Homo sapiens: one gene and its partners. The main gene of each other region encodes a partner of the protein of the gene in region 4 in a complex. Each region holds a gene or a part of one and is shown on either strand. Other genes may lie near its edges. The genes, in order: TMEM67, CEP290, AHI1 and TMEM237.

Region 1 (7,696 bases), on a different chromosome or scaffold from region 4:
GTGGTGTATGCCTATAATCCTACTTGGGAGGCTGAGGCACCAGAATGGCTTGAACCAGAAAGGTGGAGGTTGCAGTGAGCTGAGATCGTGCCACTGCACTCCAGCCTGAGCAACAGTAATACTCTCTTTCAAAAAAAAAAAAAATTCATTTATGATTCAAAATGGGTAAATTTTATGAAATATATAAATTATACACATAGTTGTTAAAATTGATTTATGAGAATATTTTCTTCTATCCATTTATGGCTTGTACTAGTAAAGGTTTTTTTTTTTTTGAGACAGAGTCTTTGCTCTGTTGCCAGGCTGGAGTGCAGTGGCACAATCTCGGCTCACTGCAAGCTCTGCCTCCCAGGTTCAAACAATTCTCCTGCCTCAGCCTCCCGAGTAGCTGGGACTACAGGCACGTGCCACCACGTCCAGCTAATTTTTGTATTTTTAGTAGAGATGGGGTTTCACCACATTTGCCAGGATGGTCTTGATCTCTTGACCTCGTGATCCACCTGCCTCAGCCTCCCAAAGTGCTGGGATTACAGGCGTGAGCCACCGCGCCCGGCCTAGTAAAGGTTTTTGATAAAGTATGACAGCATTCAAAATTGGGCTTATTATATCATATGGTTTAGGAAAAGCCTGGGGCAAAAAACACAATAATTACAAACACAGATGTAACCAAAGTTTATAAAGAACAAAAATAATGCCACAAATTATTTTAAATTTTGGTTGAAAAGACTGAATTTATCAAGAAATACTCCTATATTTGGCAATACATTTATACAGGACAATTTATTTATTTATTTATTTATTTATTTATTTATTTATTTATATTTTATTTATTTTTTTGAGACAGAGTCTCGCTCTGTCACCCAGGCTGGAGTGCAATGGTGCAATCTTGGCTTACTGCAACCTCTGCCTCCTGAGTTCAAGCGATTCTCTTGCCTCAGCCTCCCAAGCAGCTGGGACTACAGGCACGCGCCACCACAGCCAGCTCATTTTTGTATTTTTAGTAGAGATGGGGTTTCACCATATTGGCCAGGCTGGTCTCAAACTCCTGAGCTCATGATCCACCAGGCTCAGCCTCCCAAACTGCTGGGATTACAGGCATGAGCCACTGTGCCTGGCCTATACAGGACAATTTAAAAATTACAATAACTTAAACAATGTCACTGAAAAAGAAATCTGCTGCGAGACCACTTTTTATTAGCAGCTTTTTATCATGGGTAATTCAGCTAGGATCAATATTTGCAAAGATATAAAATAAATGGTAATCTATTATAATCTATTATAAAGATATAAAATAAATGGTAATATAAAAAGTGGTAATCAGACTTACAAGTAATACAGATAGCTATAAATTGGGACAATTGATAACTTCACATTAAATTCCCAGAATTAATATTTTTTATATGACAATGAGAAGAAACATTACTGTAAATGTCACAACTGTTACACAGACTTTTAATTATCCAACATGATTGAAAAATATATTTATGTTGAGAATTATATATAGTAACTATTTACTAATTTTTTTTAAATTACGATACAATGAAATTACTAACAAAACAGAAACAGACATTATTTAATCTATTAATGCAATTGGTATTTCATGAAATAATTACACCTTAGATATCATTATGAACATCAATAATCATATAAACTGTTGACATGGTAGGTCTAAGACAACTCCACTTGCATCAGTCAAAAGAATATACACATCCCAAATTGCACACATCCCAGACTGCTCTATATATGCCTTATTCATCTAATTTTCTTCATAACCGAGTTATTCTACGAGTAAAAACAAAAACTTAAATTTTTACAGCTTTGTGGTTTTTGGATTTCAGATTTTAAAAGAAATACATTTCTGTTTTCTCCAAGTTTGCATGAAATTTCGCTGATCTCCCAAAACTTACTCTAGTAAAAATAAAATTAGCATAGTAATTTTAAAGTCTGTGGGGAAACATTAAACATTAAATTATATTTTGAAAAATAAAGATATTTAACTTACTACTTTTTACAGGTAAGTTATTTTAAAATAAATTATGCGCACCATGTTTTCTGGGCACTTTTTACAAATAATAGCAGGTCCTCCATTATTAGAGATCATCTGAAATCCTGGTAGACATACACATGAAGTTCCTAAAAAAAAAAAAAAAAAAAAAAAAGCCAATTTTATCCTTGATAAATAAAAATAAAGTTCCCAGATAGTGAAACTTTTAATAAGTCTGAAGATCTTGAGAAGCAGTATAGTGATTAACAGCAGGATTCTGGAGGCAGTACTGCCTGGGTTCAAATCCAGAAATACACTTCTTGAGTTCCAATCGTAGTAATCCTACTCAGTTGCATGACCTTGAACAAGTTACTAAACTCTCTGCCTTGGCTTCCTCTACAATAAAATGGAGAAAAAAAATTGGTACCTACCTCACAGGGTTAGTATGAGTACAAAATTAGTTATTATACGTAGAGGTCTTACACTGGCACACAGCTGGTATTATGCTGCTACCATTTTAAGTGCAAGTATAACTAAACTATTAAACTACTTAACTGCTGCTGGAAATTTTACATTTCTACGTCACTAAACAATATACATGTATTCGGGCCAGGCGCGGTGGCTCACGCCTGTAATCCCAGCACTTTGGGAGGCGGAGGCGGGTGGATCACCTGAGGTCAGAAGTTCGAGACTAGCCTGATCAACATGGTGAAACTCCATTTACGGGGACTAGGGGCCGACCAAGGCGGGAGTGTTACTTTTGCCAGGGCCCACCGCAAACCGTCTTACCTCGGGCATCTTGCCTCTGGTTAGCTCCACAAGGAACACACGAGAGGGCGGAGATATCAAAGTACTGGTTGTTGTCGCACTTCTCCGGCTGCTGGAAAGGGAAAGAGAAGGTCTGGGCCTGTAAGAAGCGAGGGAGGAACAACAGAAGGAACGCGGTCACGGCCCGGGCGGATAAGAGGGACCAAACCGCCATTGCCACCCCAGCCCCACCGCGCGTCGCCATGGTACCGACGCTGGAAGCCTCACAGCCTCCAGCCCCCCATCAGCCTCTGCGGCGGCTTCGCTGAGCTGATTGGACAACCCAAGTCCGGGTACCGGAAGTCACTGCTCGTGTTGCTTGGTTGCTAGGTTACCAACCCTGCGCGAAGTTGGCAGGTCCAGTAAAGAATGGGTTAGAGACCGGTTAACCCTGGAGCCCAGCGATATTTTCAAACGTGTATAGAGTTCCTCTACTTACGATAGGGCTGCCCCCTCCCCGCAATAAACCCATCGTAAGTTGAAAATATCATAATTTGTCGAGTTATAGTTACATCAGAATTTATTCAGACTAGGTAATTTTCACGTTAAAGGAAACATGACTTGTAGTTTAACAATTTGATGTCAAAAAACCCCACTGACTTAAAACCCAGTGAAGGATTACTATAGCTCAAAGACTGAAAAAATAAAAAAACTTTCCTGCCAGGTTTGAGCATAGGAAATCATGTATGCGAGACAAAGTACGAAACGGAAGAAACCATGTTTGCTCATTCTGTTGCCAGCGAAATTTCACAAAGCCCCTGACTCAGTGACTGAACGCAGTCCTCCAGAAGAATGCCCTGAAGACAATAAGTAGGATAGAGCACAAGTTTTCACATCTGTTGCTTGAATCACTTCATTTTTTAAAAAGATACAGTCAGCGATCCTAGCTCTTGCCTCTTCCTGTACGTAAGATAACGTGTGACAGGATTAATGATTATGCCTCTGTAATCTATAACCAGATGTAGTCTCCAAACAAAACTTTGATGAGATTTTGCTCCAACGTAACTTCTGAGCACGTTTAATGTAACTTTTGAGCACATGCAGAACTCCATCCCTTGATGTAGAAACTGGGGGCAGAACAGCTGCTTTGGACCAGTATAACATAAACTCTTTGAAAGACTCTCCAGGGTTGCATTCCTCAGTAAGACTCCGAATAAAACTAACTTTGAGTCTTTAAAAGCCTGATTTTTTTCTTTAGTTGACATGTATATAAAATGAGATCACCTTTACACCTTTTGTGAATAAAGGAATCTAAGCCTGGTGCTGTGGCTCACACCTCTAATCCTAACATTTTGGGAGGCCACAGTGGAAGGATTGTCTGAGCCCAGGAATTCAAGACCAGCCTGGGCAACATAGTGAGACTCCACCTCTACAAATAAAATTTATTTTAATTAGCTGGGTGGGTGGCACATGCCTATGGTCCCGGTTGCTTGGAAGGCTGAGGCGGGAGAACCACTTAAGCCCAGGAGGTCAATGAGCCCAAAGGCTGCAATAAGCTATGATCGTGCCACTGCACTCCAGCCTGGATGTCAGAGACCCTATATAAAAAAAAAAAAAAATCCTGGACAAAAATATGGAAACGTTTAGAGTTAGAGACCACTTGCGAGGCTAAGGTAGAAATCTAGAGTCTAAATTGGAGCCATGGAGGAAGGGAGAGGCAGAAGAGGATGAATAAAGGAGCTATTCAGGAAGAAGAATTATAAGAATTTTATTATTTGGACATAGGAAGTAAACAAACAGAATCAAGGATAACTTCCAGGTTTCTGATTTGGGTGGCTGGGTAGACGGTTGTGATATTAAAGGAAGATACCTGTGGTAGATAGCTTCTAAGCGAAAACTTATTGGATAAAGAAAATTTTAAGGTAGAAATGAAAGTTATAGGAATATTTAACATGGTGGGAGCTAGAGGTATGGATAATAATAGAAATAATAGGTATTAATAGCTTGTTTTTGTTATCAAGCAAATGAGCTCTCTATCCAATGCATGCACAGAAGCCAATACTATGTGGCACAAGCTTTTGAGGAAAAAAAGTCTTTATTTGCACAACTGGTCAGCAAGGAGATAGGAGTGCATTCAAATCTGTTTCCCTGATTTAGAGTCTGGGGTAAACTTATGGGCTTGGAAAGCCAAGGGAAGAATTTAGGAATGTGTCTTGGCAGGCAGAATGGAGGACTTGAAATTTGACCATTTAGAAAAAGGTACGTAGAGGCCGATTTTAGGCCTGATCCTCCAGGCAAATGGACCCAACACTTTTGAAAGAGTTCCAAGTTCAGGTTCCAGTCATGTCCCGGTCTTGGTTCCAAGGAAAGGATTCACTGGTTTTGGGTGTTGTTAGAGGTCCAGGCTTTTTCTATTGCACATGACTGGGCTACATGACTTTCAGTTTTTGGCTCTGTTACATCTAAAAGGTAACACGACATTTTGTTATCAACAGAGTAGGCTCAGTTTGGGCTAGTCCCATGGAGACACTTTTAATGTGTCCGGCATTGCAATATCTCATTTGATCCTAAATTGGGACTGTTATCATCACCTTTAATTTACAGATGAAATAACCAAGGCTTAGAAAGTATAAGTGACTTTCTAAGGTCACACTTAATTCATGGTTCTAACCCTGGTAATTTGACACCAGAGCCCATACTTTTCTTCGGGTTTTTGTTGTTGTTGTTGTTGTTTTAAACTTTAATTTAGGTTCAGAGGTACATGTGCAGGTTTGTTATATAGGTAAATTGAGTGTCTCGGGGGTTTGGGGATCAGATTATTTCCTTACCCATGTGATAAGCATAGAACCCAATAGGTAGTTTTTTGATCCATACTCTCCTTTCACCCTCCACCCTCAAGTAGTACCCAGTATCTATTGTTCCCTTCTTTGTGTCCACCTGTACACAATGTTAGCTCCAACTAATAAGTGAGAACACACAGTATTTTATTTCTTTCCTGTGTTAGTTTGAGATAGGAGGTTGGCAGGACTGATTTCACAGGATAAGATCATAAAGACCTGGCTGATAAAACAGGATAGGTAAAGAAGAGGACTGAAACCTGCTAAAACCAAGATGGTGACCAAAGTGACCTCTGGCCATCCTCACTGCTCATTATATGCTAATTACAATGGATTAACATGCTAAAAGACACTCCCACCAGCACCTTGACAGTTTGCCCCTTGCCATGCCCACTTAGAGAAGTTACCCTACATGGTCTAACAAGGGAGGACGCTCCGTTCCAGGAATTCCCCACCTTTTTCCTGGAAAACTCATGAATAATCCACCCCTTGTTTAGTATATGATCAAGGAATAACCATAAATATACTCAGTCTAGCAGTCCTTGCCATTGCTCTGCCTATGAAGTAGCCACTCTTTATTCCTTTACTTTCTTAACAAACTTGCTTTCACTTTATTCTGTCAGATTGCTCTTGAATTCCTTCCTGCATGAAGCTGAGAACCCACATGGCCACTCAGGCTGAACCCTGATTTTGAGGTTTTCTCTGTGACAAGTTTGCTTTGGATAATGCAGAGCCCACACTCTTAAGCCCTGCTTTTTATTGTTGCCTTTGAATCTCTGGATGTGCTTTTCTGGGCAGGAATAAAGAAAAGCTAAAGGCAAGTAAGTTCAAGATGAGATTAATGAATTAAAATATTACAAAGAAGGTGAAAAACAGAAGTGGAGGTTGTGGTGAGAAAGGGGAATTAGTGAGGTTCAGATCTTACATCTGGGGCACTTTGTGTGGTGAACCCTGTGTTCATTCCCAATCTCCAGACACTTAGTGCCCTTTTGATTTGTTAATCTTTTGTGTGTAACTTGTTTTTTACTTTCTTGAAGTCTTCAGGATGTTCCTCTCTGTGCCCCACCTTCTCATTTTTCTTAATTTTACAGTGATGTGTCTGGGCATGTTTCATTGTCATCTTTTGTGTGGAACACCTGTTGTAACTTTGCAATTCAGCAAAGAAACTCATGTCCTTTAACACTGGGAAATGATCTCTTCTACTAATTATTCCTTTGAAGACTTTCTCTCCGTTTTTTTTTTCTTCTGGACACCCTATTTTTCAGATACTAGACTTCCTGGACTGTTCCTCTAATTTTCTCAGATTATGTTTTCATTTTTCTTTTCTTTTTTCTTTTTTTTTTTTTTTGAGACGGAGTCTCGCTCTGTCGCCCAGGCTGGAGTACAGTGGCGGGAGGCGGGATCTCCGCTCACTGCAAGCTCCGCCTCCCGGGTTCACGCCATTATCCTGCTTCAGCCTCCGGAGTAGCTGGGACTACAGGAGCCCGCCACCTCGCCCGGCTAATTTTTTGTGTTTTTAGTAGAGACGGGGTTTCACCGTATTAGCCAGGATGGTGTCAATCTTCTGACTTCGTGATCTGCCCGCCTCGGCCTCCCAAAGTGCTAGGATTACAGGCGTGAGCCACCGCGCCCGGCGTGTGTGTGTGTGTGTGTGTGTGTGTGTGTGTGTCGGAGTTTTTTTGCTCTTGTTGCCCAGGCTGGAGTGCAATGGCACGATCTCTGCTCACTGCAACCTCCACCTCCTGGGTTCAAGTGATTCTCCTGCCTCAGCCTCCCGAGTAGCTGGGATTACAGGCATGTGCCACCACGCAGGGCTAATTTTGTTATTTTTAGTGGAGTCGGAGTTTCTCCATGTTGGTCAGGCTGGTCTCAAACTCCCGACCTCTGGTGATCCACCCATCTCGGCCTACCAAAGTGCAAGGATTACAAGCGTGAGCCACCGCGCCCAGGCTTCATTTTTCATTTTGTTTTGTTTGGTTCTACTTTCTGGAAGATTTTCCTGCGCGTATCTGTCAAACATTGAATTGAACTTTTCATTTCTTCTATTATAAATTTAATTTCTAAGAGCTCTCTTTTGTTTTCTGGCTATAGCTTAATTATGGCATTCTTGAATTCTTCCATGCTGCAA
Region 2 (7,696 bases), on a different chromosome or scaffold from region 4:
TATAGTTTCAAGTTTTATTTCCTAAATTTAATCAGTTATTTAAGTACTGAGAAAGTTTTCTTTGTTAAGTTAGGCATCTGAAGTACTTAAAAATGAATACATTCAAAATAATTCAATTCTTCAATATATCTTTATTTTACATATATATACATATATATGTATATATATATATACACACACACACACACACACAAATATATAGGTATGTATATGGTTCTTCTGTTAGTTGTGCCTGGGGTCACTCATGTGCTTATAGTTATCCAGTGGCTTGATTAGGGCTGGATGGCTTTTAAAGGGTAGATTTCTCAGCTTTGAAAACTAGTCTCTGCTACTTATTAACACATCCTCTAATAGGTTATCTTAGGCTTCTTAAATGATGATCTCAGGACAACAGGAGGGCAAGGTTCAATGCACAAGCTCTTTATAAGGCTCTATTTAGTGCGTATTTTAAAAATTATTATTCAAGCAAGGTACATCCTGAATCAATGGGGAAGAAGTTATAAAAGGGCCAAGATAACAGAATTTTTAAGATTCCCCAAGGGAGCATAGTATGAGAGAAAGGGAGAGAGAGCATGTTACGAGCTCAGTTGTGGAGTCATCTTAGGTTACTTCCAAGAGCCACCTGCAAAGTAGAGGTTGCAGGGAAGGGACAGATTTACACAAAGGCATAGGCAGACGGGGACCTGACTCACTGGGGGCCATTATTGCAAACATGTAACACACTATTCTTGTTAGTTGTGAGAACTTCTAATTTTTCCTAGGCACAGAAGCAGACTTACAGATGCAGTTTAAGTGGATGGGATGACTGATTTCTGTTTGCTTACAAAAATGGGGTGTTACTATATATGTGCACAAAATCCAAGTGCAATTGGAAATGTGAAAGGAAAATAAAACTTGGGATCTCAATTCATTATGTCTATAAGAAAAAATTAGGGTGAAAGCTGAGTCATGCAAGAAACTGCTCTCCTTTTGTTCTTAGCAGACAGCTACACATCAAATGTTAAATATCTCCACAGGTAGCTACTTTAGGACATTCATCTTATCTCACGTAAAGTGCTGATTTACCACCCCACGTGAATACATAATATCTATTTCCCTCTCTGCTCTTTTTCTCTTGCAACACATAGATTACCATATCTACCCTTTTTCTCTTCCAATGGATTTTTCCCCTTTAAATACTGAAGCCCTCAAAATCATCTTAGAGAAAGGAAGAGACTACAGACTGTTTCTGTGATTCAGTGTTTATTTCTTTTCGGCATGTCCCTAACCTTGGCAAAATAAACTTCTAAATTGATTGAGACCCGTCTTAGACACTTTTTGGTTCACAAAGACTTCTCATGAGCTACATTATAGATATACAAAACTAAATACAATCCCTTCAATAAAACTGTAAATTGTATTAAGGCAAATTGTTTTGCCTTAATTTCATGGACAAGAATGAGTGTGCAGCAAGCAGATACTTGTCTTCCTTCAACATGAGGAAACTGGAAAGATCAGTAGGGAGTCAGTGTGAATTAAGCCATTAACCATGGCTTAATTTGCCATGAAGATAAGGCAAAACAAAATGTTTAGGACACACAATGGATACAAAATGGCCATGCTTTGTTTTAGAGATCGGAGAAGTAAGCTACTATGACTTTTCTTGGTAAGTCAGCAAAAAGGAACTAGAAGTAACATCCAAGGAATATAAATTCATTGCTACAGAGAACAAAGGTAAGCAATAATAAAAGGTGAGGCCTTCTTGTGAAGTGATTTTGGTCAGATAAAACTGTTCACAAAAGCCTAGGGCAGAAAGAAGGCAGGTCCAGACAAGTGTTCTTATAACAAGGCCACTTACAACATTGTCACATAAGTCCCATTTCTTGATGAAAACTGACAGGTGCAGAAAATCTGACGAAAAATAATAGTTTTGCCAATTTTCCTCAAAAATATACAGTGAGTTATTGAACTAGAACCTGAGTTAAATTTCCTGACTCACACTTAGGTACAGACGACAATGCATAAAAACTTAGTTGACTTGTTCAAGCCAGAGCTGACTTGTTCACTGCTGTATCCCCAGTGCCTAGCACAGGAAACAGGATAAAAAATACTGTTAGAATGAGTTAAAGAATAAAATTTAGGTAAGATTTTGCTTTTAGTTACAATTGTCACTGAGATCTAGGTTACAATCTTAGCTTCATCAATTATTACTTAACTTCTATGAACTTGTTCTCACTTCTGAAAAATTAGAATAAAATTTACCATTAGAGACCAGGCACCTTGAGTTTATGAATGTGAGCAAGAGGGTGGTGGCAGAAGGGTAGAAAAGAGTAATACAGACAAACGAAACTTGTAAGTGAATACATAAAAATAAGTTATAACGAATGAAAAAAAAAACAGAAGAAAAGGTGTTAGAGAAAACAGACTTCTATTATGAAAACAAACACGCAGTAGTCAGCATAGTGTATGACATAACATGTGCTCAGTAACTATTAAATTTCATTCCTACCATTGTCAGAGGTATTTGAATCACAACAACTCCATCTTGAATAGGGGCTGGGTAAAATAAGGGTGAGACCTACTGGGCTGCATTCTCAGGATGTCTGTCAGTCATTCTAAGTCACAGGATGAGATAGGAGGTGGGCACAAGATACTGATCATAAAGACTTTGCTGATAAAACAGCATGCAGTAAAGAAGCCAGCCAAATCCCACCAAATCCAAGATGGCGAGAAAGGTGGGACGTCTGCTCGTTCTCACTGCTCATTATACACTAATTATAATGCATTAGCATCCTAAAAGACACTCCCACCAGTGCTATGACAGTTTACAGATGCCATGGCAATGTGAAGAAGTTACTCTATATAGTCTAAAAAGGGGAGGAACACTCAGATCTAGGAATGGCCTACCCTCTTCCCAGAAAACTCATGAATAACCCACCCCTTGTTTAGCATATAATCAAGAAATAACTATAACAATCCTTAGTCTACCACCTCCAATGGGGGTGTATGCACCTCCAATTCTTTCTTGGCGAGATCCAGGAGCCCTCTCCTGGGGTCCAGATCAGAACACCTTTCCAGAAACACCATCCCATGTTAAATTATGAATTAAGAACACTGAACATGAAGAATGTTTAATTCAAATTATTGAGTAAACACTTACAAAATTAAAATATAACATTTAATAAAAATAGCAAGATTGAGGAACAAGCACTTCACAAATATTGGTTTCCCAGAATGTCTGAGGAGGTGTATAGAAGTTAAGAATATGTCCTCCAGCCAGAGAGATCTGTGTTCAATCACACTATTTAAGTTACTTAGCTTCTCCAAGCCTCAGTTTCTTAACTCAGATGGAAAATGAGGACAATGTAAGCACCTATTTCACTGGATTGTAAGGAAGAATAAACAAGATAATGAATAGTATTTGGCATATAATCTTTCAGAAAAGTAGTAAAATTGTCATTCCTATAAATCTAACTAATGTCTTTAAAATTCATCTCACAAAATCAGTATCTTTTTATTTTGTACTGAGCTACTTATTTTACCCAAATTGGGGGTTTAAAAAGAAACTCATTACTTATTTTCGAAAGGAAAATTTACTGTCAAGTACAGTAATTTTTTTTTTAAAGCAGCGTTTAAAAAAAAAAAAAGACAAAGCACTGGTCCAGATAGTTGGAAATGTCATTTAGATTTAAGTCTACAGCTTCTTAGGAAAGTTAGGTAGAGATGTATCATACTCCAGCATGATTGTGAGCAGACGAGCAGGATGAGCAAAACTTGCACGAGTAAGAGTGGTAAACACCAGAGAAGGCGCTTTCATGGAAGGGCACCCTAGGTAACCAAGCAAGTGGCAACAATAGTACAGGTGAGTCCTTGGATCCCTTCTCTCTCCACCCCCGGCAGTGGTCCGGACAAGTACTAACCTCTCCTCTCTAGAGCCTTGACTTTATACTAGCTCCACAACCATCAAGCCCCACGATCCGCGAAAGGAATGGTGCTACAGGTAAGGCGGGCGGGGTCGGGATGCCGAGACCTCTTGTCAATTCTTCGCTCGCCCCCAAACGAGGATCACGGCTGCGCGGCTCTCACTCTAACTATCAAGACAGATTCTGATACTAAACAAGGCTAAAACTTTTTGTTTTTTCCTTCTTACAGAAGGCACTACCCTGGACGCCGCTTGCAAACGCCTGAAGAGAAGGCAGGGTGTTCCCACTTTTTCAGAATGGGACCAGGCCCTACGGCCCCAATAGCAGAAGCTTCTCTAACCCAGGACTGCTCCCCTCAATTCCTCCCAATATGCTGACCGACAGCTCGACCTCACCTGGGGGCGGTTCCGCCAGGGGATGGCTTAGGAAAACCTCAGGAAGAGCAGCCCAGCGAGTGACGCCACTGAAACCACAGTCATGGTCTACCTCGTTCAGGCCACCAGTTTGCAGGCGCCTGAGCCGCTGCTCCTCCCGCCTCTCGGTCCTTCCCCGCCGCCCCGGTACCGTCGCAGTCTTACGCGTTGCATGCCGGGAGCGCCTTACCTCCTCTTCTCAGGGACTTCAGTTCCCAGCATGCAGAAGCCTCAGGCAGAACTGCACTCTGGGATTTGAAGTCCTCGTTCCACGCCTTCTCATCATCCTGAACACCGAGCTCTGGGACTCCGGCGGAGAATCTAAACGTAAAGCATCACCCACGGTCGTGAACTGTAGGCTCTCCTGGCATCCGGGATCTTATTCTGGCCTTGGCGGAGTTGGGGATGGTGTCGCCTAGCAGCCGCTGCCGCTTTGGCTTGCTCGGGACCATTTGGCTGGACCCAGAGTCCGCGTGGAACCGCGATAGGGATCTGTCAGGGCCCGCGGCCGGGTCCAGCTTGGTGGTTGCGGTAGTGAGAGGCCTCCGCTGGTTGCCAGGCTTGGTCTAGGTGGGTGGATCCTTGTAAGCAGGATTAGCGAGTCACTCCACGCTCAGGTTCTTTAGCCTGAGGGCCCGTGTGCCACAGCATAGCTACCCCGCCCTTCCAGCCTCGGGTCCCTAATACTGCCTTGCTTCGGTTCCAGTTTCCGCCGCACAACTTCACTCATTCCAAATGTTAATTTCTGCGTTTTTTTTCAGCCCCAATTCTGTTTCTCCAAATCAGGGATGATTGTCGGCCTTCCACAGACCCTCGCGCTTGCCAGGATTAGGGTGTTCGCGCGCATTGTGGGTAGGGGTGTGGAGGAAGGGATCCAGAAATCTTAAGTATTAACTTAGATTAGTGTTAGCAAGGAAGCCGTCACATTTTATTTAGCCGGGACACTCTGACAGTTTGTGCCGACTGCTATTTTTGATCAAGGCTATTTTGCCCACTTGTCTATTTTGTGGCCCAATTGTCTGTTTTGCTAACATCAGAAAGTTATAATGAAATAATCTGCAAAAAATGTAAGGTGCTAGAAAACCAATAATACTGTGTACCTTGAAAATGCTAATATACACCTGTTTTGTTACAGAGGTGGAGCACAGTGAAAGAATTCAAGATGCCACCTAATATAAACTGGAAAGAAATAATGAAAGTTGACCCAGATGACCTGCCCCGTCAAGAAGAACTGGCAGATAATTTATTGATTTCCTTATCCAAGGTGCTTAATTGGTCAATAATAATAGATATATACATTAACTTATGATTAATTTATTAATAAAATATGAATTTATTTTTTTCAGGGACAACTATAATTGTCACAATCTGGAAGTGTTCTTATATTTTGCTTGAAGGTTATAAAATATAAAACAGTTGCTTTTCTGTTTACTTAGGTGGAAGTAAATGAGCTAAAAAGTGAAAAGCAAGAAAATGTGATACACCTTTTCAGAATTACTCAGTCACTAATGAAGGTTTGTATGTAGTAGGTTTTAACTATAGGTTTGGCTATTAGTGGAACTATAAAAATCTGTTCTTATATAAGGTAATCTTTGTGAAAATACCTGGTAATATCTACATCACCACTAAAAAATGCAATATATTTAAATGTGAATTAAGTATTTTAGTGTATAAAACATTGCTAGTTTCTACTTAAAGTTTCTAAAAGGGTGTGTAGGGGAAATAGAATGAGTATGTTGAAAAGTAACATAAGGAAATATATCTTGAGGTCCAAATGACAAATGCAGACAATGACTGCTATAGGGATTTGTTAAGAGGGGAAATGATTTAAGAGATGTCAGAAGACTTCACAAAGGATCAATACTGAGGAGTAGTGTTAGATAAGTGGAAGGCAATGCAGTGGTAAGATAGTAAGGGAATTCTAGAGCTGTTGGTTACCATAAATAAATACTGAGAACAGGAAATATGTTTATTCTTTATATTTGAGGAAACAAGGTGCAGCAAGTTTGTAGCAGACTGTAGAGAAAACAAATCTTGGGTAAGTACTTTGAGATAGGTTGTTGAGGGCCTTAAAGGTGTATTTTATGCTATCAGCAATTGAGAAGGCAGTAAAGGTTTTCGAAACACAATTGATAGGTACAAAAATACACCTTAAGAAGGCAAAACTGAGTATATTATGTAGGACAAACTGAAGGAAATTGGAGCTTTGTAGACATCACATTATAGCGGAGTTTAAACCTGAAATTATGGATTAGAATAATAGCAATTGGAACAGAAAAAAAGTAGTGGAAAGACATTACAAAGGGAGATGTTGCATTACTGGATATAAGACTTGAGGACTTGAGGTAAAAAGGAGAATCAAAAATGTTTCATGCTATTAAAAATCTAGAAATTGTAGTCTTAAGTAAGAAAATTGCCTGGCATGGTGGCTCACGTCTGTAATCCCAGCACTTTGGGAGGCCAAGGCAGGAGGATTGCTTGAGCCTGGGAGTTCAAGACTAGCCTGGATAATATAGTGAGTCCTTGCCTGTACGAAAAAATTTGCCGAGCATGATGGCACACCAAGCATGATGGCACGCCAAGCATGATGGCATGCACCTGTAGTCCCAGCTACTCAGGAGACTGAGATGGGAAGATTGCTTGAGCCCAGGAGGCAGGAGGTTGCAGTGAGCTGAGATTGTGCCACTGCACTCCAGCCTGGGTGACAAAGTGAGGCCCTATCTCAAAAGCAAAAAAAACAAAAACAAAAACCAAAAACTATTTATTCAGCAAATATTTACTGAACGTCTCCATGTGCCAGCCATTGCTGGCACTAAGGATCATAACAAATAAAACAGAATTTTTATTTTCAGTGCTTACATTCCAGTATAAAGGCATATTGAAATAACCTTTTTTTAATGTTTAGATGAAAGCTCAAGAAGTGGAGCTGGCTTTGGAAGAAGTAGAAAAAGCTGGAGAAGAACAAGCAAAATTTGGTAAGCACCTTGGAAAAAGTTTATTATGGTATTAAATAATGAATTCCATTTGTTCATTAAACTGTAGAAAATTAAATTATATTCTATAAAATATATATATTCAGTTTATTTTTAATATATAACATTTAATAATAAATATTTCTAGACTCCTATTTTATGGATCTGCCATATAATACTTTTTGTTACCTTATAATCATGATGGACTCTTTTAAAAGAATTAATTTTGTTATTGAAATTTATTTAAAAGTTTGTTTTGTGGTAACTAATCAATTAAAACGTTTTTCTTTTTTTTTAAAAAAATAGAAAATCAATTAAAAACTAAAGTAATGAAACTGGAAAATGAACTGGAGGTATGTCTTTTTGTATTCCCTAGGATGTAATTGTCATTAATTTTATTTTGAATTGT
Region 3 (7,024 bases), on a different chromosome or scaffold from region 4:
ACAGAAGTAAAAAAAAAAAAAAAAAAGATTGATAATAAAGAGATTAAATCTTGATTTGTATCAAGGCAAGCAAAATGATAAGGCATAAGGACTGAAAAAGAAGCGATAAAACTATCGTTATTAACGTATTACATGATTGCATATGTAGAAAAATCCAAACAATGTAAGAATAAACTCTGTGGGCCGCGATAGCTCACATCTGTAATCCCAGCACTCTGGGAGACTGAGGTGGGAGAACTGCTTGAGCCCAGGAGTTTGAGACTAGCCTGGAAAATGTAGTGAGACCTTGTCTCTACAAAAATTAGCCAAGAATGGTGGTGCATGCCTGTAGTCCCAGCTACTTGGAAGACTGAGGTGGGAAGATCGCTTGAACCTGGGAAGTATAAGTTGCAGTGAGCTGAGATCACGCCACTGCACTCCAGCCTGAGTGACAGGGCAAGACCCTGTCTCAAAAATAAATAAATAAATAAACTCTTGCAATAAGTGAATTTAGCAAATCAATGGACACAATGTTAAAAAATTTTAAATACATTTCTACATATATGTACCAGCAACAAATACAAAACAAAAATTTTTTAAATGCCATTTATAATATCATTAAGAAACATCAAATCCCAGGAATAAATCTAAGGAGAGATTCTGCTGAAATGTATATTGCTGGGATATATTAAATAAGATGCAAATAAATGGAAGTGCATACCAAATTCATAGCCTGAGAATCAATACTGTGTAAAAATGTCAAGTCTCTTTAGAGAGTTGTTATGCTGTGACTCTTTAGATTCACCCAGTCTAGATCAAAATCACAGCTTGCAAGACAGAATGAGGGTAAAAAGGAAGAGGGAGAATGGAGAAGCTCTTCTAAAATCCATACAGAAATGCAAAGTAAAGAATAGCCTAGACAATGCAGATGAAGAAGGAAAAACCTAGAGTATAATACTAAATAGCAAGACCTATTAAAAAGCTACAGTATTTAGACATGGTAGTGTTGGTACAAACTGTCTAATTTAAAAGAATAGAGACTACAAAAACTGATCCACATGTAACACAGTCATGTTATTTATGGGAAAAGTGACACTGCAACACAGAGGGAAAAAGACACTCTCTTCAGTAAATGGTACTGGGTCAATCATAATATATATTCACATGGATATCTTGATCACTGCTTCCTATCATAAACATAAACCAATTCCTGATGAACTGCATATCTAAATGTGAAAGTAAAACAGAAACAGTAAAACTTTTAGAATAAAACTTTTAGAAAAATATCTTCAGAACTTAGGAAAGATTTCTTAAATCACAGCACTTACCATCAAAGGAAAAAAATGGATAAACTGGACAATACAAAAATTTCTGTTTTTCAAAAGACACCAATGAGAGAGAAATAATCAAACCAGAGTAGGACGACATTTGCGATATAAATGTGGGTAGGTATTTATATCTGAGAATAATCTCATATTGAGGTATATAAACCTATCACTACAAATCAATTAGAAAAAGACAATTCTGTGTTTTAAAAAATGCAGACAACTTGAATATATTTACAAATGTCAAAATCTAAGTAGTTAATAAACATGAAAACACTCAACTTCAATAGTTACCATGGAAATAAAATTAAAACCAAAATGAATATCACTATACATTCCTGAAGAATGAGGAAAATTTAGTCACTCCTAAGAATGACTAAAACGTTAAAAAACAGTATTACATGTTGGTAAAGATGTGGAGTGACTGGAACTCTCAAACACTGCTAGTGTCAACTGGTAAACCAACTTTGGAAAACTGGAAGTAATTATTAAAGCAAAAAATATACATAATCTATGACAGCAATTCTACTCCTAACAATATGCCCAAGATAAAGGTATGCATGTGCTTACCAAATACGTGACTGCAATGTGAATTACCGCTTTACTTATAATTGCCTAAAACTAGAAACAACTCAAATGACCATCAATAAAATAGGCAAATTAACTGTGGTATATTCACACAATGGATATCTAAATAATACAAAAACAGAATTAAGAATGAATAAGCTCAACTGTATGCAAGCAACAGTAGTATAAATCTTACAAAATTAACATTGAGTAAAAAAAGTCAGGCACAAGGAGCACAGTATTTATCATTCTATTCATATTAAAGTATAAAAATAAGCAAAAATAAACTCTGTTAGATGTCCAGGTAGTGGTTACTCCCACAGGGCAACTAACGGGAAGGTGATTTTTCTGGGTGCTAATGATGTTCTGTTTCCAAATTTAGGTAATGATTTTATAGGTATGTTCAGTTTGTGAAAAAAACTTTAAAAATATGTATATGAGTATACTGCTTAGTGCTTTATATATATAGAAACACATAAAACAAGTATACTGCTTAGTGCTTTTCTATATATATCTATATACACATTATGCTTCAACAAAAGATTTTAAAATTTTAATTATAGAAACCACAAAACATCATCACTTACATCTTCTAATGAATAAGTACTATAAAATCTAAAATTGCCCATTTTAATCCCAATTTTTGGCCAATCAAATGGAAACTGAAAGACTAAAAAAGGATGTATGAGTAGAAAAGAACATGTAAAGAAAAATAAGAGAAAACAAACAAGAAAAGAAGAAGACAGAAATCAACAAGGCAAAGAGAAAAGTTGAGAAAGGAAAGAAGTGGTATTAGGCTGACGAATTGGGAGGATACCATGTTGGACAGGATGCAGCCTTAACATCAGAAATGTTTATTGGCTGCTGACCATTTATAGCTTTCAACAACTGAGTCCTAACCATTTAGAGGATGTAAACTCAATGGTTTAAAGAAGAAATCCTCTATGACCCAATAGCAACTACAAAGTCAGTATCATTTTAGAGTTGAATTTAAAGTATGACAAGAATCAGAGAAGGTCAGGCATGGTGGCTCATGCCTGTAACCCCAGCATTTTGGGAGGCTGAGGCAGGTGGATCACTTGAGGTCATGAGTTCGAGACCAGCTTGGCCAACATGGTGAAACCCCGTCTCTACTAACAATACAAAAATTAGCCGGGTATGGTGGCATGCATCTGCAATCCCAGCTACTCAGGAGGCCGAGGCAGGAGAATCGCTTTAACCCGGGAGGTGGAGGTTGCAATGAGCCGAGATCGTGCCACTGCATTCCAGCCTGGGAGACAGAGTAAGACACCATCTCAAAAATAAAAAAAATCAGAGAAGACTCAAGTGATACAAACTCATCAGAGACCTACAGCTACAAATACATGTGTGCTTTAATCTAGATGAATTCAAGAACAAGTACCAAATATCCTATATTGAATTATTTTCAAGTATACCCATCAGTTTTAAAGGGCTAAAATTCCTAGAATCAAGTTATTTCTACCAACATACACAATTTTTCATTTAATTTGTATAGCAAACCTGCTTTAGTCTTCTTTTTTGTTTTTTTTGGTTTAGGTTTTGTATCATCTTGCATGCTGTCTTCTGTGCTTTGTTCCATTGAGCTTATTTCATCATCTTGATGAGAATCTGAAGAAACTGATCTAACTGAAGATTCTTTCTTTTGTTCACCTTCAACTGTGTCACCAGAGATGGTCAATGTACTACAAATATAATCCAAGTATCAGCCATTACAGATATATTATCATTATAATTATTATTCATGATGCAACAGAGTGAACAGTAAATAGGAGCAAAGATAATCCTAAAATCACTATTATTGTCTCTTGAGAGATGCATGTATTTTCTTATACACTAAAATGGTTAAGTGTCAAATAGGTATCATAGGTGGTATTTTATACTTCGTGAGGAGTTACACGATTCAACTAAAACTGAGCTCTAAACCCCAGGGGAAAGGGAAATTGTATTAATATTTTATGAGCAATTGATCTCTCTTTACATAGGACTTATCAAAGCATGCCCACCCTGCTGCCAAGTAAATGATTTATCAACCAATTTTTAAATTACCTTATTTAAAGGTATAAAAAGTATTCTAGGTTTGTTCCGTCTTCAAGAGGCTTCACATGCACAACTTTTGATTTCTCTTTTTTCTTTTCTTTTTTTTTTAAGACTGGGTTTCGCGCTGTCGCCCAAGTTGGAGTGCAGTGGTACAATCATAGCTCACTGCTGCCTCAACCTCCCAGGCTCCAGCAATCCTCCCACTTCTGCCTCCCAAATAGCTGAGACTACAGGCACCATACCTGGCTAATTTTTGTAATTTTTGTAGAGATGGACTTTCACTATGTTGCTCAGGCATGGATTTCTAGGTAAAAATTAATTCCTTGGTGAGTCACTACATTTTCAGAAGGCTATTACTAAAATTAAAATCTATATCACATGAACTAGTAAATGGTAAGAAGTAGCAACCCAGAAGCATACTGAGTTTAAAGAAAAACCAGCCTACTAACATTTTAATGTATCTAGTAAAAAATCTGCATGTAAATAATAAAAAATTAATTTCCAATATTTTTAGTCATATTTCAAAAAAAAAATGGGTTGAGGAAAGTAAGACTAGAGAAATATTTCAAATTAGTCATTCCAGAAAGCCATTCTATTTGATCACATCACCAAACCCTGTTCTTTAAGGAGAACAGCTACCCTTTGCGTGCCACTGTCACGTGTTATTAAAAATTCATGAGCTAACCCTATTTCATATTGACTATGGCTTACCAGTCTACCACAGAGGTGGTAGCTATGAGAAGGAAGATTTATAGTATACTATGGTAGGAAGCCTCTAAGATGGACCTTACTGATCCCCACCTCTTCATATTCATGTCTTTGTGTAATCCCCTTTCTTTTGTGTGTGGGCTGGACTAGTGACTTACTTCTGACAGACAGAATATGATAAAAGTAATGAATGCCACTTATAAGATTAGGTTCCAAAAAGACTGTGACTTCTGTCTTGCTCTCACTCTCTCAGAGCCCTTGGTCTGGGGAAGCAAGTGGCCATGTTGTGTGTAGACCATATGGAGACAGTCCATGTGGCAAGGAACTGGTATACCGGGCCCAAAGCCAGTCAGGACCTGAGGCCTACCAACAACCACATGAATGAGCTTAGAACTGGATCTTCTAAGGCCTTCTAACAGCTATGTCACTTGACAGATCCTCCCCCAGTCAAGGCTTGAGGTGACTTCAGTCCCAGCTAACATCCTGATTGCAACCTGTGATTGACAGAGACACCCAGTGAAGTCACTCTCAGATTGCTGGCCCACAGAAACTCTGAGACAGTAAATGCTTGTTGTCTTAAGCTGCTAAATTCTGGGATCATCTTTTTAATGGAGCAACAGATAACTAATATATACTATCATGTCCCTGCAGCAACTTGGTTTGCCGTATCTTTATTACCACCGGTCACCTAGCTTTTGAAAAGAGGGGAATTATTTTTGGCTGAGGGCTTTAGGGGAAATTGATGCTGAATGCCAAAGAATAGTCACATATAAAATGTTCCCACCTCAAGTTGTTTCTCTAGAGGAGAACTGCAGGGGGGAACAAAGTTAATTATAGCAGTTAAAAAGCATTTTTACCTTATTGTTTTCTCCAAATAGAAAACATATAAATATGTGTATGTTCACTTAACCTCACACTCTATATAGAAGTACATACATATATAAGCATCATATAGAGAAAAAGATTAGAATACCAAATTGCCAATAGTGATTATCTTTGAATAGTTTTTCTACAATGAGCTAATGTTATCTGTATAAGAAAAAAAGTTATATTTATATATCCAAACAGGTATTTGTAACTCAAAAAAGGGGAAGTAATTAGGTTTCTATTACTTTGAAAGCAGATGTAAGTGAGTAGTTCAGGGTAGGGACAAGGATCTGGCTCAGCCTCTTACTAGTTCTGTACTTCCATTTCCTCATCAGCAAGATAGGAAGAATATTACTTTTCCTTATAAGATTGTCATAAGAAATAAATGAGTTAATTCTCGTAAAGCACCTAGTACATAGTAAGGTGTTATGTAAAAGTTAGCTGTTCTTATCTTAGTGACAATGTCTCCAAATAAAAGCGTAAGAATTTTCTTTGTTAAACCACAGATAATATTCAAAACCTGAAAATAACAGTGTTTTTCTAAGAGGATATTTTACATTTATCAATGCAAAAATACCTTGTTTCAGCTTTAGAGAAGACTGGAACTTCCTTTTTCTTTTTCCTTTTTTCACTGCTTAGTTTGTCATCATGGAATAAAGTATCTGAGGGAAAGTAAGTCAACTGTTCTTTCAGTTTCTTTCTTATTTTCCTCTTAATCTCCTTTGCCATTTCTTCAGTTACATGGCACTGATATGCTTGCATCAATTCTTCATCCTCTTCTAAATCAGTCTCTTCTCTTCCCTCATTTGCCTTCTCACTTTTCTGATGATCAACGCCTGGCTGTGGCTTTGTATGTGTTTTCTGGTGTGTAGAATCAACCTTATTCTCAGGAGTTTCCGGTTTCAGGTCTTGTGTAGTCAACTGGGGCACCGTCTTTATCACCTTTTTATTTGGCTTTCCTTGTTTGTCTTCCTCTACACTAGCATCACCATTAGGATTTTCAGTTGCTAACTGTGTGTTCCTCAATTTGTTTTTAGTGACTCTCGTGCTCTTCTTCAGGTTGTTAGTGTTAGCAGCACTTACATCATCACTTGTAGTTTCTTTAATATGGGGAAGATTGCTTCTAATAGTGTCGGGCTAGGAAAAGAAGACATGATAACAAAGTTTCAGTTACACATAGATTAGTTATATAAAGAAAAACCTAATAATTAATATTTGACAATGTGGAATTATTGGGAGGATTATTTAGTTTTTCATCTGGACATAGTGACACTATTTTAGAGCATATGAGTACTCTCATAATTTATGCTTCCAGAATTTGATTAGTAATCTCTGAATGTAACTTCAGATTAAATGAGTTAATTGACATGGGAAAAAAGTACTTAAGGACCTATAAGAAGTGAATTAATTGCTCAAATCTCAAATGCTATTTTCCTCATACATATTTTCCTCATGATCTACACTCTAATAGATATTCGAGAAATTGCTAAAAGAGCCATTGAATGTGACATTTCAGGTCA
Region 4 (7,091 bases):
TTTGACCCCCTCTCCAAAAGGCCCTCAATAAAATGGTTTACTATGGTTTTATTTAAAAAAAAAATTAAAACTGTATTGTTTCTACAGGATCTGTGTTAGAGAATGTAATTTTTGTTTCTAATGGATAATGCCCTTACGATTTATCCTTTTGGATGGACATCACTTACAGATATAAAGTTTAATAAATGTTATGATGCTACCCTTATTTTTTACTTTCTTATTTTTTTGGGTCTAGCTTAAAAAAAAATCCTTGAGCCGTAGTTTGCAAAGCCAAACAGAAATTGGGCATGTATGAGCCTGGTGTTTGTATTTTAAACAGAATATCTTTTACTTAAAAGCTTACTTTAAAAATGCTCAGTGAGTATATCTCATCTGTAAAATGATGATGGTAATAATAGAGGGGGCAAGCCAAGTGAAATTAATCAGTGATCTCATCCTAGAACAGGTGATTTTTTTTCCGGTTGCGTACATATATTTTACATTAAATATGCTTTAAATATTGTGTCATAACATACATTCAGTAAGGTGTACAGAGTGTACAGTTTAATGAATTTTTATGTGTGTATGCACCCAGATAACCATCACCCACATCAAGATATTACAGCCACTTGTGTGTGTGTGTATATGTGTGGTAAAAATACATAAAACTCACCATATTAACCGTTTTAAGTGTACAGTTCAGTGTTAGTATTTAGTGTTAAGTATATTCACATTGTGTGAAACAGAGCTCTAGAATTTATTTACCTGGCAAAATTGAAACTAAAAATATGAATGATTCACTAAATATTTGTATGTCATGCTTGTACAAGGGCCATGCTAATCTCTGCATTGTTTCAGTTTTAGTCTGTGTGCTACCAAAGCAAGCACAGGTATCTTTAAATTATCCTTTCTCTTATTATTTTTATTTTCATATTTTTTGCAATGACTATGGAGGTCTGATTTTCCAGTTTGCCTTGTGAACAGTGGAGTCCATGAATGTATTTGCTGAGTCTTATGGGCATTTAAAATTGTTCTCATTTTTATGGCAGTCTAAACAAATTAACAAAATTGTTTCTGGATCATATGTATGGTCACTTTGTAAAGCCACAAGATTTTGGTGCCTGCATTTGTGTTTCAGATTGTATTGGTGACAAGTTGTACTATTTTCATGAACTAATAAGAAAATAACAGCAATGAATTTAATGCATTAGTGCCAAGTGAATGCCAAATTACCTTCATTAAATGAACATTTCACAATAGTAGAAACATAATATAACTGGCTTATACCATCCTCATGTTGAAAGTGGCCATTTTGTATCTTTAATGTTATCCCTATCAGATTAATGTTCACTTGAAATTTATGTTTAAATTTTATTTAAACTGGTACATTTTCTTTGGTTTTATGTTGTATATGGTTAAAAAGTTTCAAGTGTTTAGGTAAGAGTAAGATAAGTTCACACGGGAAGTTGAGGGGAGTAATCTGTCTGCAAACTATGACTAAATTTTGCAAAACATGACGAGACATTAAGACTAAAGATTAAAACATAAGTTTTGTAGTTTAGAAGACATTTATTGGACCTCATTTTTTAAAATAAAAACTTCAGTCTTTTATTATTTAAAAAAACTTCCAAATTAAAATTTCTTTATCTCAGTAATACATTTCTAAGAAATAAAGGATGACATACTGTGGATAGTGATATACTTTTCCCAGCTTTGCTTATGCTTCACATTAATTTAGAAGGATATGTTTATACCTGTTATAATAATTATATTTTCTCTACAAAAATTAGCTGGGCATGATGGCATGTGCCTATAGTCCCAGCTACTTGGGAGGCCTAGGTGGGAGGATCACTTGAGCCTGGGAGGCAGAGGCTGCAGTGAGCTGAGATGATCCTACTGCATGCCAGCCTGGGACAGAGTGGGACCCTGTCTAAAAAAAAAAAAAATTATTTTATCTATACTTAGCCACATTATTTCAATAACAGAGGGCAAAAAAATTACTATTTTCTAGTTTGCTGGTTTTGTAGAATTTTGAAAAAATATTTTTGAAACTTTATTGAAAATCATCTGTGCAAAATTTTCGGACCTTACTGTTTTTATACATAGTTTCACAACTGAATGTGACAGCATAACAAACTGTATTTTTTCCATTTGTCCAATTAAGTCTGTACTATCCATATTTTTCTATTTCTCCTAAAGGATGAAGACCTACAAGAGATGGAAAATTTAGCCCAAAGAATGGAAACTCAGTTTGGCCAATTTTTTGATCATGTGATTGTGAATGACAGCTTGCACGATGCATGTGCCCAGTTGTTGTCTGCCATACAGAAGGCTCAGGAGGAGCCTCAGTGGGTACCAGCAACATGGATTTCCTCAGATACTGAGTCTCAATGAGACTTCTTGTTTAATGCTGGAGTTTTAACACTGTACCCTTGATACAGCGATCCATAGTTGCAATCTAAAACAACAGTATTTGACCCATTTTAATGTGTACAACTTTAAAAGTGCAGCAATTTATTAATTAATCTTATTTGAAAAAAATTTTTATTGTATGGTTATGTGGTTACCTATTTTAACTTAATTTTTTTTCCTTTACCTCATATGCAGCTGTGGTAGAAATATGAATAATGTTAAGTCACTGAGTATGAGAACCTTTCGCAGATTTCACATGATCTTTTTAAGATTTAAATAAAGAGCTTTCCTAAATAAAATAAGCAATAGTTAACTTTAGAAACTGTACTCTATGAAACGTGTTTTATGAAAACATCTTTTACAAAAAGTGCTTACTTGACTAACTCAGCAAGAAAGGTTTAATGTACACATTTCACATCTAAAATCAAAACCTACAAGAAACTGCACTGCCTTCACTATTTACAAATCGGCCTACAAGGAAAAAATTATTCTCATGAGAGGTGTGACAAACACTAATTTTCCTTAACAGCCAATATCTACATGCAGGCCTAAATTAGAAAAAGGCAATGGATTAATCCCAGAGACCTATATATAGAAAATCACAAGAGTGAAACCGTGTCTCAGAGTTAAAGAAACCAGGGACTAACAGAAATTCTTGAGCATGCAGGACGGCAGATAAAAAACAACTTGCTAAATAAAACGCCTAAACTTCTTCCATTGTGAGATTAAAAAACAAAACAAAACAAAACAAAGCAAACTGGCTGAAAGTGGTTAGTACTAACACGGATGGCTACCTGGAGTCTGTACAAAATGAGCTTGCTGGCGTCACAGCTTGAATCTTTCCCCATGTTTCACACTGACTCCCTCCAAAATTTGCACATGCGACCCATGAAGGGACATGAAGAGGTAACTGCGAACGCCAGAGGATTTTCCAGATGGCTTCTTTCCTTCCACCAATCACCTACTAATCCCAGAATCCACCCCCTAAACGTTTTCTAATAAAAATACTGTCTTAAAGCCAACACAGGGAGACAGATTAGAGCTATACTCCTGTCTCCTTGTTAGCTGACTCACAATGAAAACTTTTCTCAAAAAATCAGCGCCATAATATTGGCTTCTGTGCGTATAGGGCAACAAGCCCCGTTTGTTTGGTAACAAGATTAGGATGCCATTACAAAGTGCTGTTTCTCTTTCTTTCCCCAGATTTGAGATTTCCAGGCGCTTTCCCTGTCCCTGTATCTGTTCATCTTCTGCATCATTCTCTTCTCCATATCCACACCATTCTTCCATCTTTCCCATTTCTTTCTTAACTGTAAAACAGAATGCATGATTCAAAATATTTGTAGTTCTCTGTTACTTAAAGTGAAAGTTATCTTTAAAAAAAAACAAACCCAACCAAACCAAACGATGCAAATCAGGTAGTTTGTAGTGATATTTATGTGAGGTTGGATTTGATTTTAAGGTTGAGAAAAAGTTTTTCCAAATTTGATTTACACAGTTGTGGGATGAAGGGTAAGCAATCGGAGAAAATGTGAGAATTGCCTATATTAATACACATCCACACACCCAGGCCTGCACAGACTCGTTGGTCCTGGAGAGTAAACGCATTCCTCCCAAACCCAGCAGCGCCTGGCAGGACAGAGGCGGGCGGGGACCTGGCTCAGGGGGCGGCTGCCTCGCCAGGCGCCACGAAGCCCCGGCGTCCCACAGGTCCCGGAGGCCGCTGCGTCGCGGGGAGCTGGGCTCGGGCCGCCGGCGGTTGCGCCGGGGCAGCCCCGCGGGGAGAGCACCATGAGGACTGACTCGGGGGCTCGGCTGGAGGAGGGCCACCTGGTGAGCGGCGAGGGGCGCGTCGGCCTCGAGAGGTGGCGGGTAAACAGCTACACTTGGCAGTGGGGGTGGGTGTGTGTGGGGGGGCGCCAACGAGCTGGGAATCACTAAGGGAGGGCCTTGCTCGTGGGGTGCGCGCATCCGCCCCTCCAGTGTTCACAGGAATGGGACGGAGACGCAGGCGAGGCCGGGACCGAACTCCCGGAGTGGGAGAGAGAGGCCTGGCATGAAGTTTGCGGGGACCTGAGCCCGCGTTGCCACGACGACGCCTCACTCATCTGAGGCCCGGGGCCCGGCGGGTGCCGGGGCTTCCAGCCAGGCCTCTCCTAGACTCCTCCGAGGAGAGGTCTGTAGCTGCCCAGAAGAGATCTGTTCGCCTGCGGAGTCCTTTAATTAAGGTCTTCCGTCACGCCCCGCTTCCCGCAAACAAATCACCGCCACCACTTAGGAAACCACGGGAAAGCTGTGATTGCAGCGCCACGGTCGCCAGATTTCTGCTCCTGGGCACATTACCCCCAACTCCGAGGCCCCCTTTTTGGCAGGGCTAGTCTGGACTGGCCAATCCAGGTCCCTGCACGCCTCTCACCGCAACATCCCCGCAGGGCGCTGCGCGCGGGGTACTAGCCAGGCGGCGCGGCCCGATGACGCATTGCGCCTGCGCGCGCGACCGAGCCGGGAGGGGTGGGGCGCCAGGTGCTTGGGGGCCGGCGGCCGCCGAGGCCGGCTAAACGCAGAATGGGGAAGAATCCTGTGGTAAGCGAGCCTTAGCTACTTTTAATTGTTAGGATTTTTGTCTTCAGTTGAGCCGTCCTACTTTTGAGGATTAGAGGTTGGGTCTCTGGGTGGGTGGAACGTCATTTTTGCGGGACTTTTGAAATCAGTTACGTGAACAGAGCCCTGGGATCGATCGCGCGCGCTTCGTAGCATCTTTAGAACAATAGCGCGTTCCTGTGACTGTCATTCTTCTCCAATTGTAATTTTGACTACTGGATGGTATTACGGCAGCTTGCCTCGTCCTAATCTTGTAGTACTTGCATTAATCTACTGTTCGAACGAATGGATTGCTAAATGGGACAAACTACAAGAGTGTCTAAAATTTAACCCTTTTGAATAAATGTCTTATGCAAGCAGCATGAGATACTTGGAACATTAAATTGGCTTCTAGGCATTTCTGTTACTATATGATTCTAAAATACTTCTCAACTGTAATGCTGTCTGAACTACAAACACTTTTCTTATTCATGTAAATGAGGGTTTAGAAGGGTTCCCCCCACCTTTCTTTCTGCCCTAAAACGCATTCTTCCCAGTGTATGCAACTGGCCTTTTTAAAAATTGTGTTAGTATGTGGTTTAAAACCTCCATTTGTTTCCCATTGAATTAAAACAAAATCCAAACTTCCCTTGGTCTGCAAGGCCCTAACTAATCTGGCTCCTGCCTACCTCTCCTTGGTAATTGTGCGGCAGCCTTGCTGTCCTTTTACCTGAAACATTCCAAGCCCAATTTAACCTAAAAATATTTGCATTTGTTCCGGTTGCTGCTTTCTCATTCAGGTCTCAGCTCAAACTCAGAGAAACTTTCCCTAACAAAAGTAGCACTCAGTCTCCTTCATTCATTACGTTTTGTGTGTGTGTATCTTGTGTATATATATATATATGCACACACGATATGTATACAAGATATGTCTTAAATATAGCATATAAATATATTTTATCGTACATGCTGCATATAATATATAGTATATATTATCATATATATATTTTTAACATTGTTTCTAATACTCAACCACTAGAATGTAAGTTTCATAAGAGCAGAGTTCTCTCCATTGTGTTCATTAGTGTATTCCTAATGCTTAGAAAAGGGCCTGGCCTAGAGATGGAAAGGAATGTAGGAAGGAAGGAATTTTATATGAAATTTAGGATGGGAGAACAAATTTTAAATTGCCCATGTTTCTCATCAGTACCTCCCAGGTTTCACTGATGAACAAGATTATCAAGAGATTTGAAGATCCTAGTCTGATCCATTATATTTTTCTGTCATGTCTGAACAACAGACTTTTGAAAGAATTGCTTTGGCCGGGCGTAGTGGCTCACTCCTATAATCCCACCACTTTCAGAGGCCAAGGTGGGCGGATTTCCTGAGGTCAGGAGTTCAAGACCAGCCTGGCCAACATGGTGAAACCCCGTCTCTACTAAAAATACAAAAATTAGCCGGGCATGGTGGTGGGTGCCTGTAATCCCAGCTACTTGGGAGGCTGAGGCAGGGGAATTGCTTGAACCCAGGAGATGGAAGCTGCAGTGAGCCAAGATCGTGCCGTTGCACTCCAGCCTGGGCCACACAGCAATACACCATCTCAAAAAAAAAAAAATAGCGTGATGGTATTTGAAGTAAAGATGCTCTAGGCTTTTACTTACAAGCAAATTTATTTTTTCCGCCACAGCGTCCTCCACGAGCTCTTCCACCTGTGCCAAGGTAAAAATAATTTACAGTAATTTCATTATTGAGCTTTAAAAATGGAAAATGAAGACAGTGGAAAAATTGACTAGTATCATTGCAAAATTACAATGATTCAGGAAACTCTTCTGAAAAATTTAGGGATTTTCTGAAATTTTAAAGGTGAAAAATCCTTGAATTTTAAGAATAACAGTTATAATGGAATGTTATATTTAAAAGCCTGAATATCAACATGGTAGGATAATGGATCCATTCCCTTTCTAACTGTTTTGGTGTCTTTTTTTTTTTAAATCAGAATTCTGGTCTTTTGTGAGAATAGTTTCCTCAGAGTTTAAGCTGATTTTAATCAGTCACAAGTAAGAGTTCTTAATCTGCTTAATCCATTTTATTAATAGACAGTAGGGAATATGTATATGTAG

Evidence for each region.
Region 1: TMEM237 (region 4) and TMEM67 share a complex: the UniProt entries of both Homo sapiens proteins name them as parts of the tectonic-like complex.
Region 2: TMEM237 (region 4) and CEP290 share a complex: the UniProt entries of both Homo sapiens proteins name them as parts of the tectonic-like complex.
Region 3: TMEM237 (region 4) and AHI1 share a complex: the UniProt entries of both Homo sapiens proteins name them as parts of the tectonic-like complex.

The regions. Positions count from the first base shown.
Region 1 is NC_000008.11:93,750,215-93,757,910, reverse strand, and holds the start of TMEM67 (meckelin isoform 1 precursor), read right to left. Parts: upstream 3,018-7,696; 5' UTR 2,997-3,017; coding exon 2,774-2,996; intron 2,134-2,773; coding exon 2,045-2,133; intron 1-2,044. UniProt on the Homo sapiens protein: Required for ciliary structure and function. Part of the tectonic-like complex which is required for tissue-specific ciliogenesis and may regulate ciliary membrane composition.
Region 2 is NC_000012.12:88,139,089-88,146,784, reverse strand, and holds the start of CEP290 (centrosomal protein of 290 kDa), read left to right. Parts: upstream 1-4,696; 5' UTR 4,697-4,885; intron 4,886-4,910; exon of another isoform or gene 4,911-5,052; intron 5,053-5,450; 5' UTR 5,451-5,477; coding exon 5,478-5,579; intron 5,580-5,751; coding exon 5,752-5,829; intron 5,830-7,220; coding exon 7,221-7,290; intron 7,291-7,593; coding exon 7,594-7,640; intron 7,641-7,696. UniProt on the Homo sapiens protein: Involved in early and late steps in cilia formation. Its association with CCP110 is required for inhibition of primary cilia formation by CCP110.
Region 3 is NC_000006.12:135,459,733-135,466,756, forward strand, and holds part of AHI1 (jouberin), read right to left. Parts: intron 6,642-7,024; coding exon 6,082-6,641; intron 3,575-6,081; coding exon 3,393-3,574; intron 1-3,392. UniProt on the Homo sapiens protein: Involved in vesicle trafficking and required for ciliogenesis, formation of primary non-motile cilium, and recruitment of RAB8A to the basal body of primary cilium.
Region 4 is NC_000002.12:201,640,492-201,647,582, reverse strand, and holds the start of TMEM237 (transmembrane protein 237), read left to right. Parts: upstream 1-4,079; 5' UTR 4,080-4,182; coding exon 4,183-4,224; intron 4,225-4,912; exon of another isoform or gene 4,913-4,956; coding exon of another isoform or gene 4,957-4,974; intron 4,975-6,658; coding exon 6,659-6,690; intron 6,691-7,091. Other genes in the region: MPP4 (MAGUK p55 subfamily member 4), read left to right, coding at 2,179-2,373. UniProt on the Homo sapiens protein: Component of the transition zone in primary cilia. Required for ciliogenesis.